Linked DNA regions of Homo sapiens: region 1 is linked to region 2. The links come from fine-mapping of genetic effects on gene expression. A gene starts in region 2. The other region holds a variant in brackets. All regions are shown on one strand. Distances are between the middles of the regions.

Evidence for each region. PIP is the estimated chance that this variant, and not a neighbour inherited with it, causes the effect. A credible set is the group of variants that fine-mapping cannot tell apart.
Region 1: its variant is the best candidate, but not a certain one, in a credible set for the expression of AEBP2 in whole blood (INTERVAL, PIP 0.85).

What each region holds. Positions count from the first base shown.
Region 1 is chr12:19,546,004-19,551,384 of GRCh38, forward strand. No RefSeq gene overlaps it. Among named protein-coding and RNA genes, the nearest start is that of AEBP2, 110 kb to the left of the region's middle. The variant GTATT/G (reference allele first, on the strand shown) is at 2,757.
Region 2 is chr12:19,437,167-19,442,547 of GRCh38, forward strand. AEBP2 (AE binding protein 2) reads left to right here and starts at 2,326. Exons shown (of 8, transcript NM_153207.5): 1 at 2,326-3,204. The coding sequence starts at 2,534. RefSeq lists silencers at 2,194-2,443, 2,504-2,653, 2,664-2,763 and enhancers at 3,414-3,463, 3,494-3,583.

The sequences.
Region 1 (5,381 bases), 110 kb after region 2:
TGATACGTGATATATTCATCTGCATGACTACGAGCTGGTCACTGATTTCTCTGGCTGGTCGCTGATTTCTCTGGCTCTCGGCACATATCATTCACTAGGAGGTAAATAGAGAACACTGCTTTGGATGCCTCTCCGTGAAGTGAGGCAAGATAATACTATTTATTACCAGTCAGAAGTCAGCTTGCTTCATGTCCTCAGAATGCTGCCTGAGGTCCTGCTCTGTGTCTTCACCTTCTTGTTTGCCTGGAGAGATTCCAGCTACAGGCCATTCACACAATGAAATGCCTTTGATTTCTATTCCAGAGTATTGGGACATGCATGTTTGCTGGGCAGTAAACATAGTTTTCACAGTTATAGTCATATTTTCCAATGCTGCAAGAAAGACCATTTATGATTTTAGCACCAAAAACCCAAGAAGATTGTTTTCTTTTTTTTTTTTTGAAGATTGTTTTCTTATTAGCCTTATTAGCAAAAAGAAAAAAAAAGAAAGAATAGAAAAAACCCTTACAAAATATTGGCCAGTTCAGGTGAAGCAATAAAGATGTTTGAGGGAAAATGATTCTAATCGTTTTAAAGCTAAAGCTGAGGAATTGGGCTATCTAAATGTAGCTTTAGGATTGCCATCGGTTGCACGAGCTTGCTTTCTGTTTGTGAAGGAGAACTTGCCTGTTGAAGAAATGCGGCACACAAGCTGTAATATAACAGGAAAGGAAGGCTTTTTGTGCCAAGAAATCACTCACGTGAGCTGGGATCCTTTTAACAAATCTGGTGGCAAGCTCTTTCTGAAAGCTTGAATGAAGAAGGAGATAATCTAAAATTGTGTTCATGGCAACCACCCTCAGCCTTTCATATGGAGTTTGCAGGGCCTGTCTGAAGCACATATTCAGCCCTTGCCGTTCAGCTTTTGTGCAGCCAAATGGTGCACAAAGACGGCTTCTCTGGCTAATTGGAATAGCTTCCAGTGGGTGGTGATGGTTTTTACATTTATAGCAAGTTCTAGATCTGACTAGAGATACAGCACACCCCCAAAAATGAGCCATCGGTACTTCTGGGGTGGAGTTAACCAACCAGTGCCTCTCAGAGTAAGGTTCAAGTTCAGACCTGCAAGGGCATACAGTTCCAGGAGGGGAACAAGCTCCTTCAGAGTTGTTTCTTCCCCCTATAACCAAGGACTGAACTTTTTCCTCTATCACATTTGGCTCCATAATTTTCTTAAGTAGTGGCCCCATCTGCAAATAATGTTTTACTTAGGATATTTTTATGTTGATGAAAACTCAAAAGCTTTCAGCCTTCAACTCCCTGAGCCTGGGTAAAACTCCACCCTTCTTCATATTTGTAAGTCTGTTTTCTCATCCTGTTAACATTCCTCTTTGAAAGGGAAACACACTGTTTCCATCTCAGGCCTGCATACTTGACCTTCCATATCACTGATGATTTGAGAAATAAAAAAGGAATTGCTGCCCCTGCATTCTTTTCCCAATTTGAGTCCTTTCTCAGTGAGGTCCCTTTGACCTTGACCTCTGGAGAGAATTCAACAAAGGCAAGAACTGGGCCAAGAATTAAGTTGGATGAGACTTCTGAATAGTGTCCAAAACACTATACTGGGGCTTCTAACATCCTGAATAAGGACCAAAATGACCCCTAAAATTTACTGTCCTCAGCAGCACAAGCATGACAGGAAATATGGGGGTTGTTACTACTTTTTTCTTCCTTTTAAATAAGTATAATATCCCAGGGTAAAAAAAAGTATTGTTTTGTTCATATAGAAAGTAGTAGACATAAATCCTCCATTTCTTCCTCCCTCCCTCCCTCCCTCCCTTCTTTCTTTCCCTCCCTCCCTCCTTTCTTCCTTTTTTCCTGAAGCAACAGAACAGTTTGGTTTGAAGTTTGCTTTTGCCATCATGAAAGGCAGAATTTAGCTCTTCATCTGAATAAATAATACATAATTTTAGATTTGTGATAAATTCTAGACCTGTCTAGGATAAGAAATATATTTTTATTTAAATATGAAAGGCAATCTCTTGAGAGCATTATGTGGGAACCATGCTATTTAAATATCTTTATGCTGGAAAGAATGTCTTCTTAAATAATTCTAAGCTTCCACCTGGAGAATGAAGCCTTGTCACAGGGTCAAGAGAAAAATACTGAACTAGAAATCAGGAGATGTAAAAGTCCTAGCTTCAAGCTCAACGGCAAATAAATTACTTCTTTCTTTCTTTTTCTTTCCTTCTTTCTTTCTTTCTTTCTTTTCTTTCTTTATTCCTTTTCTTTCTTTCCTTTCTTTCCTTCTCTTTCTTTCCTTCCTTCCTTCCTTCCTTCCTTCCCTTTCTCTCTCTCTTTCTTTCTCTCTCTTTCTCTCTCTCTCTCTTTCTCTCTTTCTTTCTTTCTCCAAGTCTCACTCTGTCACCCAGGCTGGAGTGCAGTCGCATGATCTCTGCTCACGGCAACCTCTGCTTCCCGGGTTCAAGTGATTCTCCTGCCTCAGCCTCCCAAGTAGCTGGGAGTACAGGCATGTACAAAAAATACTAATTTTTGTATTTTTAGTAGAGATGGGGTTTTACCATGTTGGCCAGGCTAATGTCAAACTCCTGACCTCAAACGATCTGCCTGCCTAGGTCTCCCAAAGTGTTGGGATTACAGACGTGAGCCACCACACCTGGCTTCAAATTTTCTTTGTTGTCTTGGGCAAGTCATTTTCTCTCCCTTTACACCTTAGCGAACTGATAGGTAAAATGAGGTGGTGGAACTAAGGCAGT[GTATT/G]TATTTATCTATTTTGAAATTTCCATTTTTATTTTAGGTTCAGAAGGTGTACCTGCAGGTCTGTTACATGGGCATATTGTGTGATGCTGTGATTGATTTGAACTTCTATTGATCCCTTCCCAGAGATAGTGAACGTAGTACTCAATAAGAAGGTTCTCAGCTCTTGGCTCCCTCCCTTCTTCCCTTCCTCCTTTTAGAGTCCCCAGTGACTATAGTTCTCATCTTTATGGCCATGTATGCCAAAGATGTAGCTCCCGCCTGTAAGTGAGAGCATGCGGTATTTGGTTTTCTGTTTCTGTGGGAATTGGCTTAGGATATGGCCTCCAGCTGCATCCATCTTGCTCTAAGGCAGTGAACTTAAGTTCTCCTTTTTAATTTTATTTTTTCCATTGTGATGTCCTATTGTCAAATGCAATTTTACGTAAACTCTAGTATGTAACAGATTAAAACTATATTTTATTAGATAATTTATGAATTCACAATTATAATCTTTATCCAAAAGTTATGCAATGAGAACAGAGGCTGTTTTGGTGTTCATAAACAATTGAAATGGGAGTTGCATTCGTTTCCCAGGACTGCCCTAACCAACTACCACAAACTGGTGGCTTTAAGCAACAGAAATTTGTTCTTTACCCGTTCTGGAGTCTATAAGTCTAAAATCAAGGTGTTGCCAGGCCATCGGCCCTCTAGAGTATTAGCGGGGAATCTTTCCTGGCCTCTTCCAGCATCTGGTAGTGCCAGGCTTGGTGTGGCATGTGGCAGCAAAACTCCAATCACTGCCTTTATATGGCCGCCTTCTCTCTGTGTCTGAGTTATCACGGCATTCTCCTGTCTGTGTCACTGTTTTCTCTGTCCCCTAGACTGGAGTACAGTGGTGCAATCTCCGCTCACTGCAACCTCCACCTCCCGGACTCAAGCAATTCTCCTGCCTCAGCCTCCCAAGTAGCTGGGTTTACAGGTGCGCACCACCATACCCGGCTAATTTTTGTATTTTTAGTAGAGACTGGGTTTCGCCATGTTGGCCAGGCTGGTCTCGAACTCCTGACCTCAAGTGATCCGCCCGCCTCGGCCTCCCAAAGTGCTGGGATTACAAACGTGAGCCACCGCACCCGGCCCTGTTTTTCTTTTCTTATAAGGACACCACTCATATTGGATTAAGGGCCTATCCTAATTGACTATCACCTCATCTTAACTTGATTACATCTGATTCAAGTTAGGAATGCAACATATTGTTTTGGGGGACACAAATCAATATACAGTAAGAGTTATAGATAACGACTGCAGTGTTATACTAACATTATTATCTAACTTATTTTTGTATTTTGTTTGGTGGTACCATATGGAGAAAAATTTTGGCCCACACAGATAATTAATTAAAAATGGTAGTTTTTTTTTTTTTAAACATTTAACCATGTCACTTTGCAATCTCAATTTCAATTCCTTCAGTCAAACTGATCCAGAAGTCTGAAAGAACAACATTAGGGAATTTATATACCAGTGTTAAATTACTGACAATATCTTTAAAAACACTCACCTTCCTTACTGGGGAGTATTCACTTTTTAAAAGGAGCTGATGAATGGACTCCCGGGGAAGCTTAAATCATCGTCATATTTGGCCAACGCTGTGTGGCCAAATGTCATAATAGCCTGAGTTATTCAATGGTGACTTTTTTTTTGAGACAGGGTCTCACTCTGTTGCCTAGGCTGGAGTGCAGTGGTGCGATCTCGGCTCACTGCAACCTCTGCCTCCCAGGTTCAAGAGATTCTCCTACCTCAGCCTCCCGAATAGCTGGGATTACAGAGGCATGCCACCATGCCCTGCTAATTTTTGTATTTTTGGTAGAGACAGGGTTTCACCATGTTGGCCAGGCTGGTCTCAAACTCCTGGCCTCAAGTGATTCACCTGTCTCAGCCTCCCAAAGTGTTGAGATTACAGACGTGAGCCACCGGGCCCAGCCTCAAGGTGACTTTTGAAAACATCTTGTTAGTGGCATGTTCTGTCAGACGTTCCCTTGAGATTTCAAAAGAGTAATAATAGTTTTGTATTTTAGTGTAAACTTGGTTTCAGCTGTGTTGCTAACACATTCCTGCTGTTGTGAGCAGTGATGTGGAAACCATGTACCACTGAATTAAAAGTAGCATCTAGGTACTTTACCTCGTACAGCTATGTTCCAGAGATGTTTACTTACTGGAGTTTTTTTAAAAACAAAAATGTTATTTATATTTTTATTGGAAATATCTGTACCAGAACCTTGTCTTGAAAGTATTAAAAACTTCAATGTTAAAACATACATTCTAGAACTGACCATCCTTATTAGTATAAATAACTCTGAAAGGTGCTCAGTTTACAGGCAATGCCTTAATACGGTTAACAATTATGAAGCTTTACCCAACATCTTTCAGAATATTGCAGAGAAAACTATTAAGCACAAATACAATGACCACGAGCGTATTTCAGCAACTGCTTTATCTGAGCAACTCTTTTCACTCCACCAGAATAGACTTGGTTACATTTTCAACAGGTTACTCAATGGCGTATTAAAACTGAATGTAAACACTTTTTCCCCCTCCAGTTGTATTTTAAATAATAACTCTTCTTTATGCTCATTTGTGTGGCTAAA
Region 2 (5,381 bases):
GGCCTTGCTGGGTTTCCACACTCAGTCTATTACTATTAGTTCATTCTCTTTTTGTACAATCACATTTCTACATGGATGTCCACTCTGTTGAATCTAGGCATACAAATGGACAGCTTTCTCTGGGTCTTTACTTCTGAAGGCTCCTGTGTCACATAAGACTTCCATTAAATTAATTTGTTACACTTTTCTCTTGTTAACCTGTCTTTTGTTGTAGAAGTGTTGGCCATGACCCTTATGATGGGTGAGGAAAGGTATGGAGTGCAGTGGCATGATCATGGCTCACTGCAGCCTCAACCTCCAGGGCTCAAGTGAACCTCCCACTTCAGCCTCCTGAGTAGCTGGGACTACAGGTGTGCCGTAGAGACAGGGTCTCGCTATTTTACCCAGGCTGGTCTCAAACTCCTGGGCTCAAGTGAGCCTCCTACTTTGGCCTCCCAAAGTGCTGGGATTACAGGTATAAGCCACCCTGCCGGCCTTCTGATAGTTTTTAATTTACAGTTTACAGTGTATTTCACTTTAATACATTCCTTATCTAAGATTGCCTTTGAGGTTTAAAATGTTGGAAGTTAATACCTTACATTGTATGTGCCTCTGAAGGTATCTGTAAATGATGTCCCATGTTATTATTTTTGCATTCCCTTAGAGGCAACATTTTATATAACAGTTGTCCAAAGGCCTAAGGCAGAGGATGTAATACTGGGTACTCACGGTATATGACGACTTTCCCAAATGGGAAATGAGCATGGAGGCTCTGTTTTCAGGCAGTCAGTTCTATCCTCATTTTCCTTGAGTAGAAGCATCCCTAAAATTGGCCTGAAAATGTGTCCTTGGGTCAGGGTGTAATGTGGGCTCTTTTCCAGTCTCCTTTCTTCCAATGACCTCTTCCCTACTTTACAAAAGAAAGGCATAATTCTTCCTCATGCTAAATCTTAGTAAGGTGCAATACCCGGTTATGCAAAAACCTCCAGGACACCAAAGAAAGGCACAATTGACTGGTGAATAAGAATGGGGTAACACATCCTTTCACAAGTCAGGTGGTTTTCAGTTGCTTGCTTTCAACAAGTTGAAAGAGAACCTAATCAGAGTTGTCAGCTGACAGATCATTAAAAGTATTTTTTCTTTGTTAGATCTTTATGCGATTTTTGGGCATATAATGCGAAAGGCATTCAAAGAATTGTGTGGCATTACTATAACAAAACTCCATTCATTCTCATCTGCTTTTTTTATGCGAACAAGTTTTCTCAACACTTATATCCATGGAATTGAAAACTTGGAATAGAACTGATGCTGAACTATTTCTCAAAAAAATCCATCCACTGAAGGTCATAATGTATATTAGAAAAAAGTCCACCCAAGTTCATTTCTGCAAGATGCATTGCCAATAAAATTTTGCTTTTGTGTTTAGTACTTACAAACATTTGAAATAGATTTGTTTTGATCGGTTGAAATAAGAGCTTTATGATCACAGAAAATATAAAAAACAACCCAGATACTTCAATTTATGTTCACATTTTTATTACAAGTAAGACGATCAAAATAGTTCAAATATAAAATATATTACTAGGATAAAATTCTAGAGGAGATATGCAACGTCAATATGAGTTCCAGAAAACAATATTTGGAAATTGTATTTTCCAAACTGTATTTTAAAAAAATGGATATTAGTGGGTGTTAAATCCCTATGGTATTTAGAATCCATTGGCTATACAGTATTTAAACAATGCGACAGATGAAATATTTATAAGCCGGAAAAATGTAGCTGTCATTCTAAACTGTATAAGAACATACACAGCTTTACGAAATTGTTTTAGAAGGCTCATGAAGTAAAAAGTTTGAGGACCCTGAACCAAGATGTTTGCTCTGGGTTCAGGATGTCAACATCTCCAGGGGTATTCAAACATAGGGTGTATTAAAACCTGTCGCCCTGTGTTGCGCATAAAAATTTAGTACCTTACACCGTAGTGTTTTAATTTTTGCCCATTTTAAACCGCTCTCTTCGTAGACTGTAGGCTCGTTCTATTCCTGGCTCAGCTCCTGTACAGAGGGGACACTCCTCAAACACCCCCGGAATGAATGAGTTTATCGTGAGAACTCGGAAGGCTGCTAAAATCCCCGGCCAGCGTTGGAGTTTTCAGTCCGCGTGTCCCTGGGCTTCGAAGCCCGGCAGGGCGTGGGAAGGCCCCGAGGAAACGCTGAGCACTTGCAGGCGCCGGGGCGGGGGCGGGGGCGGGCACTGGGCAGCGGGGCGGGCGCCGGGCGGGGGCGGGGGCGCAGAACCCGCAGCCGGGGGAGGTGCTGCCTCGTGCCGCCGCGCAGGCGCGCAGCAGTCTCCGTGTGAGTGCGCGTAGTCGCGCGCCTGTCCCCGCGCGGGCTCCGTAGCGCGTGTGCAGGCTGACGCAGCTCGCGGGCCCTCCTCCTGCTCTGCAGCGGCGTCGGCGGAGTTTTGGGCGTTTGGGAGGGGGGCGAGGGAGAGAGAGTCGAGAGAGGGAGGCGGCGGTGGGGAGGAGGAGGAGGAGGAGGAGCAGGCGCCGCCATGGCCGCCGCTATCACCGACATGGCCGACCTGGAGGAGCTCTCCCGCCTGAGCCCTCTGCCCCCCGGCAGCCCGGGTTCGGCGGCGCGGGGCCGGGCTGAGCCCCCCGAGGAGGAGGAGGAAGAGGAGGAGGAGGAAGAGGAGGCGGAGGCCGAGGCGGTGGCGGCGCTGCTGCTGAACGGCGGCAGCGGTGGGGGCGGCGGAGGCGGCGGCGGAGGAGTGGGGGGCGGCGAGGCAGAGACGATGTCGGAGCCGAGCCCCGAGAGCGCCAGCCAGGCCGGGGAGGACGAAGACGAGGAGGAGGACGACGAGGAGGAGGAAGATGAGAGCAGCAGCAGCGGCGGGGGTGAGGAGGAGAGTAGCGCCGAGAGCCTGGTGGGCAGCAGCGGCGGGAGCAGCAGCGACGAGACCCGCTCGTTGAGCCCCGGCGCCGCCAGCAGCAGCAGCGGGGATGGGGACGGCAAGGAGGGCCTGGAGGAGCCCAAGGGACCGCGGGGCAGCCAGGGCGGCGGCGGGGGCGGCAGCAGTAGCAGCAGCGTAGTCTCCAGCGGCGGCGACGAGGGCTACGGGACTGGGGGAGGCGGAAGCAGCGCGACCTCCGGGGGCCGGCGGGGCAGCTTGGAGATGTCGTCGGATGGGGAACCCCTGAGCCGCATGGACTCGGAGGACAGGTCAGTGCTCTGAAGCGTTTCCCCTTCCCTTCCTCCTCTTGAACTCCCGGGCCCCTCAGAGGGGGACCAAGGCGACGTTTTGCCGCGATCCCCCTGCTCCCCGAATCCTCGGCCCCTCCCCCAGACTCTCAACTCGGAAATCTCTCGCCGTCGCCGCCGCGCCCCTCTCGCAGCGCATCGCGGCTTCCAACTCTCAAACCGTTCCCCCCCAACTCTCCTTTCCCCGCCCTCTTTCCCCTCGGCGCTTCGCTCCTCACGGACCTCAGGACGGCTCTAACTCGGAAACAGTCCCCAAACGGGCCCAGATCCTCTGGCGGAGCAGAAGAGGGCCTTGATGTACACACGTCGGTACTCAAGGTTAGCTTCTTCCAACCGTGTTCGGGAACACTTGTCAGAACTACAATTGACAAGTGTTTCCAATATGGCTGGTCTCGCCTGGATTTAACAGAACTTCCTTGTCCATGGGAGAGACCCCAGCTATCACTTTTCTCTACTTAAACAAAAAAAGGACTGTTCTTTTATATTAAATCATTGCCTCCCAAATCCCTCATTTGTAGTCAGTCATGTGGTCTCCAACGTGATTTTAACAATCTTTTCTATTTGTTTTGGGAGCATATCTGGGAAAAAGTTTTAAACACGTATAAATGGTTGTGGAAAAGAATAGTGAATTGATGGCCTTTTAAGATAACTTTGCGGAATCAGAGAGTTGGAATCGTAACAAAATACAGTCTTGAAGGTACAACGTAGTTTGCGGCTTTATAGTAATGTTTCAACATGAGAGTCATGATTTTAAATGATAATATTTAAAGTCATGCATTGGAGAGGTCTCGGAAGGAATGAGTATTATTTTTCTTACTAAAGCTTGTTAGAAGTAACTGGAGAGTGACAAAAATGCGCATTTTTTCAGAACATTTAAAAAGTGTGATAGTGTATGTTTCAATTGTCTTATCATTACTTTTGATCTGTTTGGGTTAGTTGGTTTTTAATGTACTTTTAAAAAAACGAGAATCACATGCATATTATGCCACTTCTAAAGTGTATTAGCGTTTATTTTGACCATCTATGTTTTGACAATCACATTTTTTTTAAACATGCTCTCCAGAAAAGTATAGCAATGGAAATTTTAGTGGTCGATAGTGATTTTCATTTAAGAGTTTAATATTCTAAAGTTCTAGGAATTCTGATTAATTGATTAAAAACGAACACCTTAGTATTTAATGCTACAAGTAATACAGAGTCCTGGATATTTTGAAAATCTGGCATTAGATTCTGTTTGACATTAACGTCTAGTTAAGAAAATATCTTCGGGTAAAGTAGACTGTATAAACCTTAGAAAAATTGTGTTGAACTGTGTAGGCATGGGTAGGAAGGAGAATGTCTTCAAGAAAATTAAAAATTGATGTAAACTGCACAATGAAGCATGTGCTATTTTTACCATTTTATGCTCCTCTGATACCATTACATATCTGAAAGTTGACATTAGTTTATAAAATCAGCGTTTTTCATTTACTCAGTATACACGTATTATGCTTGCCTACCACTGTACAAATTAGATGTCTTCCATTTCATTCCCACAACTATGGTGCAAGATAGGTATTATTTTGACTTCTGTTTAACAGATGAAGAAGCAAGTTGAGTATCTTACTCAGGACAGTAAATACAGCATGGAAATGGTGGGCTGGATATGAGCAAAGGTTCTCAAGTCCCCTATTATTTCCACTGAAGAGTTAAAATAATTCGCCTTAAATAAGTTGAGGCCGGGCGCGGTGGCTCAGGCCTGTTAACCCCAGGACTTTGGGAGGCCGAGGTGGGCGGATCACCTGAGTTGGGAGTTTGAGATCAGCCTGGCCAACATAGTGAAACCTTATCTACATTAAAAATACAAAAATTACCCGAGAGTGGTGGCGCGCGCCTGTGTTCCCAGCTACTCGGGAGGCTGAGGCAGGAGAATCGCTTGAACCCGGGAGGCAGAGGTTGCAGTGAGCTGAGATGGTGCCACTGCACTCCAGCCTGGGCGACAGAGCGAGACTCCGTCTCAAAAAAAAACCAAGTGATATGTGTCAGAGTTTTGTTTTTAGTTAGTGTCCATTTACTACATCACTTCAGGAGACGAATTATTGGTTAAGTACATTTAGGAAGTGGAGTTGTGGCTTTTATTTGACATTAATGAGATATTT